Linked DNA regions of Homo sapiens. Each later gene encodes a partner of the first gene's protein in a complex. Each region holds a gene or a part of one and is shown in the gene's direction. Other genes may lie near its edges.

Region 1 (2,767 bases):
GTATGGCGTGGGAGGGCTTGTATGGCATGGGAGGCATGGGAGGAGTGTATGGTGTGGGAGGGGTGTATGGCGTGGGAGGGGTGTATGGCGTGGGAGGGTGTATGGCGTGGGAGGGGTATATGGCGTGGGAGGGGTGTATGGCGTGGGAGGGGTGTATGGCGTGGGAGGCGTGGGAGGGGTGTATGGCATGGGAGGGTGTATGGCGTGGGAGGGGTGTATGGCGTGGGAGGAGTGTATGGCGTGGGAGGGGTGTATGGCGTGGGAGGGAGGGTGTATGGCGTGGGAGGGGTGTATGGCGTGGGAGGGTGTATGGCGTGGGAGGGGTATATGGCGTGGGAGGGGTGTATGGCGTGGGAGGGGTGTATGGCGTGGGAGGCGTGGGAGGGGTGTATGGCATGGGAGGGTGTATGGCGTGGGAGGGGTGTATGGCGTGGGAGGAGTGTATGGCGTGGGAGGGGTGTATGGCGTGGGAGGGAGGGTGTATGGCGTGGGAGGGGTGTATGGCGTGGGAGGGGTGTATGGCACGGGAGGGTGTATGGCGTGGGAGGGGTGTATGGCGTGGGAGGGGTGTATGGCGTGGAAGGGGTTGTATGGCATAGGAGACATGTTGGCCCAGAACCCCCCCCGCCACTTAGGCCTTGGCTCTCCTGTCCATCTCCCCAACCAGACTCGGTGAAATACCTGGAGTGCTCAGCTCTCACCCAGAGAGGCCTGAAAACCGTGTTCGACGAGGCCATCCGGGCCGTGCTGTGCCCTCAGCCCACGCGGCAGCAGAAGCGCGCCTGCAGCCTCCTCTAGGGGTAAGAGTCCCCCACTCTAGTGCCCAACTCCCATACACAGCAGGCCCTGGCTGAGCAGTGGCCTTTGGTTCACTGTGAGTGGCATTTAGGCCAGGACAGAAAGAAGGTGGGTATGGAGGTTGCCTCAGTTTCCGCAGCCTACTTGTCATCTGCCTGGGCCAGTCTCACTCTCTGGAGCTCATCTTCCAGAGGCAAGGCCCAAGGTATGAATGAATGCCTGGTAACCCCCCACCCCCGGGCCAGGGAGTGGGTGTCACGGAGCCCCACTCTGCCCATTCCTGCAGGAGGTGATGGAAAAGATGCCTTGGTCCCTGGCCCTAGGAGAGCCCAGTCGAGCCAGGGAGATCCTGCACCCACATATGTGGGTGGAGGTGGGAGAGCCTGAGCTATGATCCCCAGGGGGCAGATGGTGGGGTCAGTGAGTTGGAGGCAGCCCACAAGGCCTCCTGGAGGTGTGGGACCAGAAGGACAGAGAGGACTGGTGAGGTGGGGAGAGCAGCATTGGCAGTCCTGGTGGGAGTCAAACCTTGAGCAAAGACCTGGAGGTGGGAATGAGCTGTGAGCCAGGAAGGCGAGAGCTGTGGATTCTGCATGTCCCCAAATTCTCTTTCCCTGCTTATCTTCCTTCCAGGTTGCACCCCAGCGCTCCCACCTAGATGGGTCTGATCCTCCAGGATCCCCACCCAAAGCCTGATGGCACCCCGGCTGGCCATGCTGTCCCCTCCCTGTGGCGTTTCTTAGCAGATGGCTGCAGAGCTTCGTTGATGGTCTTTTCTGTACTGGAGGCCTCCTGAGGCCAGGAACGTGCAAATTTGCAGGTGCTGCATCCCAAGCCCCTCATGCTCCTGCCTTCCTGAGGGCCAGAGGGGAGCCCCAGGACCCATTAAGCCACCCCCGTGTTCCTGCCGTCAGTGCCAACTGCCGCATGTGGAAGCATCTACCCGTTCACTCCAGTCCCACCCCACGCCTGACTCCCCTCTGGAAACTGCAGGCCAGATGGTTGCTGCCACAACTTGTGTACCTTCAGGGATGGGGCTCTTACTCCCTCCTGAGGCCAGCTGCTCTAATATCGATGGTCCTGCTTGCCAGAGAGTTCCTCTACCCAGCAAAAATGAGTGTCTCAGAAGTGTGCTCCTCTGGCCTCAGTTCTCCTCTTTTGGAACAACATAAAACAAATTTAATTTTCTACGCCTCTGGGGATATCTGCTCAGCCAATGGAAAATCTGGGTTCAACCAGCCCCTGCCATTTCTTAAGACTTTCTGCTGCACTCACAGGATCCTGAGCTGCACTTACCTGTGAGAGTCTTCAAACTTTTAAACCTTGCCAGTCAGGACTTTTGCTATTGCAAATAGAAAACCCAACTCAACCTGCTTAAGCAGAAAATAAATTTATTGATTCAAGTTTGGAGATATCGTGATTTCAGGTGCAGCTTGATCAAGGTATTCAAATGATGTCATCGAGGCTTGTTTAGCTCTGGGCTCTGCCTTCTGCTGGCTGGTTCATTCTCAGGCAGGCGACTTAGGGCTTCATCCTCCCAAGTTCAAGTTCAGGGTTTCATCCTTCCAAGTTCAAGTTCAGGGCCTCATCCTTCCAAGTTCAAGTTCAGCCAAAAAGAGCAAATGTCTATCCCAGGCAAAGTTCTAACTAAGATTTACTGTGATTGGACCAGCTTAGGTCCTGGGCCCCCTTTTAACCAATCATATTTGTCAGAGTGGTGCAGTGCTGTGCTCTGACTGGCCAGGCATGGACCATATGCCATGCTGGAACAGAACTGCGGCAACCCCAGCGAAAGCGTGTGTACTGGGGGGGAGGGTGAGTTCCAAAGTGGGCTGAGAGCCTGGCGGGAATTTGGGAATTTGGGCGAGAAACCCTCAACCTCCACTACTGGAGGTCATGGGAAAGTGTTCATTTCAGCAGTGAAATGAAACAATGCTGGACCCCGAAGGTGATAAGCAAAGGGGAGTTT
Region 2 (7,267 bases), on another chromosome or scaffold:
AGGCATGTGCCACCACATCTGACTAATTTTTAAATTTTTCGTAGAGATGGAGTCTCACTATTTTGCCCAGGTTGGTCTTGAACTCCTGGGCTCAAGTGATCCACCTGCCTTGGCCTCCCAAAGTGCTGGGATTACAGGTGTGAGCAACCGCACCTGGGAATTATTGGATTCTTGTGTAGCTTTTCTAGGCCATATATGACTAACAAAAGCAGAAATCAGATGGTATATGTATGGCTCCAGGAATGTTTTGTAGATCCACAGCAGAACTGGAATGACAATACAAGGAATGCACACCATTGTCCCAGACTTCAGCTTCTAAATGTGAGAGCGAAGTGGGGTGCACCGTGAGAGCACAGGGTGGGCCTCGAGGTGCCGACGAGGGCAGACAGCAGAGCTGGGCACCACAGGGAGCTAGGGCTCTGTGAGCCGTGGCTCATCTCACACCTCCTCACTGCCTTGCATCATGGCCATGTCTGGACCCTTCTCTCCTCAGGCCTTTACCAGAAGCATTAACCGAGACAAGCACTTGGCAGTGGCTTACTTCCAACGAGGGATGCTCTACTACCAGACAGAGAAGTAAGTGGTTCAATGTTGCACCAACTGGAGGATTTCAGAGAGAAACCCAAGGGGTCTCAGTGTTGCGGGCTTGGTGTTTGAGCAGTACCTTCCCAACCTCTGTTGGGAAATGTGACTGGCCCTTCTGGGGACAGTTATGCAATAAATCAGCAGGTGAGGCAGAAGCTCTCACTGGGGAGGCAAGGCAGGTCTGCCACCAGATTATAAATCAGCTGTGTCATAGGCACAATGAGCCTAGGTAACCACCATGGGCCTGATACTCAGCTGGTGTGACACCCCACCAGTGTCCCTGATGGGGTCACCCATGTAGGTCTCCTATGAGGTACTGAGCTGTCACAGAATGGGGATGATCATGAAACTGCATCAAAACCTGGCTTCATCCCAGCAAAATGCATTTCCAAAACCTGGTTTAATCCATTTGAGGAAATATACTTCAGCTGCAAAAATGATAATACAAATTAACATTATATGTATAAGAATAAATTACTACAGATAAGTAAGTAGCGTATGCACTTATACAGAAAAAGTTTGCAGTAGATGTTAATTTTTTTTCTTTTTCCGAGACAGAGTTTCACTCTTGTTGCCCAGGCTGGAGTGCAAGGGCTCGATCTCAGCTCACCGCAGCCTCCGCCTCCCAGGCTCAAGCGATTCTCCTGGCTTACCCTCCCGAGTAGCTGGGACTACAGGCATGCGCCACCACACCCAGCTAATTTTGTATTTTTAGTAGAGATGGGGTTTCTCCATGTTGGTCAGGCTGGTCTTGAACTCCCGACCTCAGGTGATCTGCCCACCTCAGCCCCCCAAAGTGCTGGGATTACAGGCATGTGCCACCACGCCCAGCCAGATGTTAAATTTAAAAACAGATTTCAAAACAGTTCATATAGCATAGTCCCATTTCTGTATCACAGAATAAAGTCTGGAAGGCCATAGATCAAAATGTTATCAATAATTCTCTCTGGATGGTGGGATTATAGGAAAATCCATTTTCTTCTATCACCCTGTCTGCATTTTTAGGTTTGTTTATAGTCAACATGGAATAATTAGTACAAAGATTAATAAATTCAAAATGAAAGTTAATCTCAATTCCTCCTCCCTCTCATCCTGCACAAATACCTCATAACAAATAACAAAGGAAAAAAATTCTAAGTGATAATTTCAAATGTTTTGGGGCATGGGAAACTGACCCTTTGTAGAAACTGTTCCACCAGTGTGCATCAGTTCTAGGGAAGAGGAATTTGGCTCAGGCTAATGAAGAATTTTTTTTTTTTTTGAGACGGAGTTTCGCCCTGTCACCCAGGCTGGAGTGCAGTGGCGCGATCTCGGCTCACTGCAACCTCTGCCTTCCACGTTCAAACAATTCTCTTGCCTCAGCCTCCCAAGTAGCTGGGATTACAGGTGCCCGCCACTACGTCCAGCTAATTTGTGTATTTTTCAGTAGAGACAGGGTTTCACCATGTTGGCCACGCTGGTCTCGAACTCCTGACCTTGTGATCCACCCGCCTCGGCCTCCCAAAGTACTGGGATTACAGGCATGAGTCACTGAGCCCAGCCTAATAAAGAACTTTCTGACAGTGAAAATGATCTGTGCATGGTGTGGGTGGGGTGAGGGTGAGGCCGGGCGTGGATGGAGCAGCAGGGAGGTTGTAGACAATGTCCAGACATCAGAGAGAGGGCTGGGCTCTGATCCTGTGCCACCCTGAAAGGCTTTGATCCTATGGTTTGGTCAGAAACAGAGCCTGTAAAACCCATGTATGCAGCTGTTGCTAAGGGCAACCACAAGATGCTCAAAGGACCTTAAAGATGTAGATGCAGTTAGTTACCTGAAGAAGTGAAAGTAGAAGTGAAGTCTTTTCTAAAAGAAAAACCACAGACACAATGGCAATCTGGGGAGAAAGAGAGCCTGGGATTGGGAGAAGATATCCAGGCATTTAGCTCTCTCTTCCCCCCATATTTAGTGTGACATATTTATTGTGACTTTATAAATTCTTTTTTTAATTTTAATTTTTTATTTTAATGTTTGTGGGTATGCAGTAGGTGTATATATTTATGGGACACATGAGATATTTTGGTACAGCAGGTGTTTATCTTGACCGACGTCTTGCCTCTAACTGCCTGTCCCCGCTCTTAACATCCTTCTCTTTCTCACTCCCCCTTACCCCGTCTCCAGACTATAGAATATGCAGGGAGGCCTAACAACAAATCCTTCAGCCGATCTTAAATCTCAAAACGCAAACTCTAAGGTCATTCCTTAGTGACCTCTAATAGTCTATAAAGAAGAGATACAACTGGCAAAAGAGTGAAGGCTCCCAGAAAGAATTTCCTCCAAAAAATGCCCGTGAGTCCCAGGATCTGGAAGGCCACGGTTTTGAGTGATTAGAAAGATCTTGGAAACTTCTAAAAGTAAGACCCAGGATTCAATTAATCTGTGATTGGTAATATTAATAGTTACACCTGAGAGAAAAATCTACCGAGTTTTATCTGTAATTCAACAATGAGGAAATTATACAAATGAGGCACTAATCTCAACCTCAAGCAGGCCCTCTTGCGCAATTCCCTAGGTGTTGGTATTCCCTTTGAAGTTCTGTTCTTGACCCTTTTCCCTTTTACAACTGCAGCAGTGGTTGTTAAATGGCAAAATGTGTTTCCAGAAATACACTTTCAAGCACACACATTCGTTTATGTACAATTCAGGGGCTATAGATATGAAGTCCGTATGTGAACCTTGAGGATCCATTCCTGGGCAAGGCCACCCTCTCCCATATGGCTGGCCTCCATTTCTCACAGAATCTGTACCTGAGATCCATCCAGGGAATGTCTCTTTCCCTAAACCTCATCAGGTTGACCTCTTAAATATTTCTTAAATCCACCTATTTCTCTCCATCCCCACTAGCACTGCCTTGGTTGAGACCCTCATTTTTCACCAGGACTACTGCAGTCACTTCCAAACTGATTTTCCAGCCACTGCTCTTGTCCCCTCCATTCATATTCCAGAGTGATCTTGTAAAATAAAAAAAAATTTAAAAAAAGCAATCTCTGTGAGAACTTCCAGTGGCTTCCATGACTGCAAGATAAAGGCCAAATTCCCTTGCCTGTTCCTATGTGGTCCAGCTGCTGCCACCCACTCATGCATCCTCCGTGCCTTTGCCCCAGCCATGCCCAACCACTAAGGCAGCGTCTGCTCCCTCTTTTGAGCCTCCTTTTGTAATATGTCTGGCCCGTGACAGATATTTGCTTCCTGTATATATTTGTCTTCTCCACTACTCTACGAATTTCGTAAGAAATCTTTACTTACTCATGCTTGTATTTCAGTATCTAGCATAGTAGTTACTCAATAAATGAGTGTTGGATTAAATAAAAGTGAGCAAAATATAGTCTCCGTTTCAAGGAACTTATAAATTAAAAAGGGGAAACAAGTCAAGAACACCAGTAACTGTAATGCAAGGCAGAAGTGGGTAACTGCTGTAAGAGGTAGTTTTAAGTAAGCGGGATGGGGGCTAGAGAAATTACTTCTTAATGTGTGGGACAGAAATTCCCTCAGATTGGCTGGGCACAGTGGCTCACACCTGTAATCCCAGCACTTTAGGAGGCCAAGGTAGGCGGATCACCTGAGGTCAAGAGTTTGAAACCAGCCTGGCCAACATGGCGAAACCTTGTCTCTACTAAAAATACAAAAAATTAGCAGCACATGGTGGTGGGTGCCTGTAATCCCAGCTACTTGGGACGCTGAGGCAGGAGAATAGCTTGGACCTGGGAGGCAGATGTTGCAGTGAACCGAGATAACACCACTGCACTCCAACCTGGGCAACAGAGCAAGATTCTGTCTGAATAAAAAAAAAAGGAATTCCCTCAGATTACAAAAGGGAATTGTTTAAGGCTGATAATGTTATGGATGGAGGTTTTTCCCCCTCTATTTCCCTCTATTTTCCCCACTTTCGTATGTTTTTGTGTTGCTCTTCCGTCATTATAAAGTTCCAACAGAACAAAGTTAGAGCACATTTCTGAAAAGGCAAGCAGAGTCTCAGGGATAACAGCCAAGCTGTCTCGCCTCTCTAGCCCCAGCGTTGTCATCTGAAAGGCACAGGGGCTCGAAGCTGTCTTTCAGATCCTGTGCCTTATGAATCTTAGGGCATGACAATAAGGGTGAGACCCATTCCATGGAGCTGGCTTAAAGAGGCTCCATAGCAAAGCCTTCTTCCTGCTGACTTGGAAACAGGAAAGGGAGTGGGCCCAAACCTCTGTCACAGCAGCCACTGCAGCATCCCAAAGATGCCTGAAGTTTTGACTTCTTTCAGCTTGCTGAGATTCCATTGTCCTGGGTGCAGGTGTATGAGCTGTGGACTCTGGACGCATGGGGCACTGGCAGCATGGGAACAAGCAGGTTACTAAGAAACCTCCCAGGAGTATTACAGAAATGGGGATTATAAACTCTCTCAAGCCTGGAGCTTGTGAAAAGCTATGGCAAGGTTGCTGCTTCAGCTGGTGGATCCCCTGCCTGGGAGGGGAGGGGCTTTGGGTCCAGTGCAGCCAAGGCGCCCCAAGGGGTGTCACTGAAGTGTGGGTGTGAAGAAAGCACCCATGCCCAGCCCAGCAGAGCCCTGCAGGAAGCTGCCAGCACCTTGGCTGCCTCCTGGGGGATGCTTCCAAATGGCCACGAAGAGAACCGCTGAAGAAGGGCTAGAGGGAGGCGGGGGCTGCCGCAGCACGGCCCACTGGCACACAGCGCTGAATGCTATTTTGGGATTCTCATACTGAGATTATTGCGAACCTGTGTAATGGGAAAAGAGCTGTGTGTCAAAGCGGAACCCCCTTCAGGGCTGCAGCTCTGGGTAAACAAGTGGAGAGGCCGAAAAGAGGCCTGCAGCAGGGAACGAGGGGGCTGGGAAGCAGGCCGGTGCTTTCAGAGACATGTTTAAAAACGACACTTAGTTGGCGAGGCGAGGTGGCTCACGCCTGTAATCCCAGCACTTTGGGAGGCCGAGGCGGGCGGATCACGAGGTAAGGAGATCGAGACCATCCTGGCTAACACGGTGAAACCCTGGCTCTACTAAAAACACAAAAAATTAGCCGGGCGCGGTGGCGGACGCCTGTAGTCCCAGCTACTCGGGAGGCTGAGGCAGGAGAATGGCGTGAACCGGGAGGCGGAGCTTCCAGTGAGCCGAGATCGCGCCACTGCACTCCAGCCAGGGCAACAGAGCGAGACTCTGTCTCAAAAAAAAAAAACACTTAGCAAGGATGCCCCTTCCCCGTTTTAAAAATTAATTAATTAGGCCCTGTGCAGTGGCTCACAGTTGCAGTCTTTGTACTTTGGGAGGCTGAGGTGGGAGGATTGCTTGAACCCAGGAGTTCGAGACCAGCCTGAGCAACATAGTGAGACCCCCGTCTCTATAACAAAATTAATAAATAAAATAAGTAATCTTTTTTTTTTTAGAGAAGGGGTCTCACTATATTGTCCAGGCTGGCCTCAAACTCCTGGGCTCAAGTGATCCTCCTGCCCCAGCCTCTGGCGGAGTAGCTGGAACTGCAGGCTCAAACCTCAGCCCCTGGCCCCACCCTGTTTTTTTGGTTGTTGGACTTTCTTTTCTTTCTTTCTTTCTTTCTTTTTTTTTTTTTTTTGAGTCAGGATTTCATTCTGTCGTCCAGGCTGGAGTGGAGTGGTGCAATCATGTCTCACTGCAGTCTTGACTTCCTGGGCTCAGGTGATTCTCCAACCTCAGCTTCCCGGGTAGCTGGGACTACAGGCACGTACCACTATGCCTGGCTAATTTTTTGTACTTTTAGTAGAGGTGGGGTTTCTCCATATTGCCTAGGCGGGTCCACCCTGTCTTTAAAACAAAGCAAACCCTCTGAATAATTTGTCAGTTCTTTCTCTCTCTCTCCTACCAGGCCCAAATCTGTAGACACCTTTTTTTTTTTTTTGAGTTGGAGTCTCGCTCTGTCAACCAGGCTGGAGTGCAGTGGCATGGTTTTGGCTCATTTCAACCTCCACCTCCTGGGTTCAAGTGATTCTCCTGCCTCACCCTCCTGAGTAGCTGGAACTATAGGCACGCACCACCACGCCCGGCTAATTTTTAAATATTTTTAGTAGAGACGGGGTTTCACCATGTTGGCCAGGCTGGTCTCGAACCCCTGACCTCAAGTGATCCGCCTGCCTTGGCCTCCCAAAATGCTGGGATTACCGGCACGAGCCACTGCACCGGGCCTCTGTAGACATCTTGATGGGCTAGGGAATTATTAGGAGGATTTTGCTGGGCTCATGCAATGCCAGATAGACCCAGGTGGTGTCACTTCCCAGCTGAAATCCATCTGCTTAGCCAACTCAGCAGGGAGGAAGGCACGTTGGTAGGTTGATGCTGACGGCAGTTAAAGTGTGTGCCCTCTGAGACCTTCAGCGAGCTCCCAAACAGGCAATAGAACACAGTGGAAATTGCAGCTGCCAGGAAACAGGAAACCTCTGCTTCTGCCTGTCCTCTTCGCGATGGAAGAGGCTCAGTGAATTGAAGCTAGTTACCCCACCTTCTGGCTTAGAAAGCGGAACCTGATTTCTGGCGTACTTCTGGGTACCTTCTTCCTCTTTCCAGGAACCCAGAAAGATGCGTGGAAAAGACATGAAAGGCCCCATTGCTACTTAAAGAATGGCCTGCATGCATTTAGTAGGTTTTACAACCATCTTTATTAACAGGGATACTAGAGA

The links. Proteins that work in one complex are often made in the same cells at the same time.
Region 2: RAC2 (region 1) and NCF2 share a complex: the UniProt entries of both Homo sapiens proteins name them as parts of the phagocyte NADPH oxidase complex.

The regions. Positions count from the first base shown.
Region 1 is NC_000022.11:37,224,704-37,227,470, reverse strand, and holds the end of RAC2 (ras-related C3 botulinum toxin substrate 2), read left to right. Parts: intron 1-667; coding exon 668-798; 3' UTR 799-800; intron 801-1,431; 3' UTR 1,432-2,201; downstream 2,202-2,767. UniProt on the Homo sapiens protein: Plasma membrane-associated small GTPase which cycles between an active GTP-bound and inactive GDP-bound state.
Region 2 is NC_000001.11:183,580,204-183,587,470, reverse strand, and holds part of NCF2 (neutrophil cytosol factor 2), read left to right. Parts: intron 1-493; coding exon 494-576; intron 577-7,267. UniProt on the Homo sapiens protein: Subunit of the phagocyte NADPH oxidase complex that mediates the transfer of electrons from cytosolic NADPH to O2 to produce the superoxide anion (O2(-)).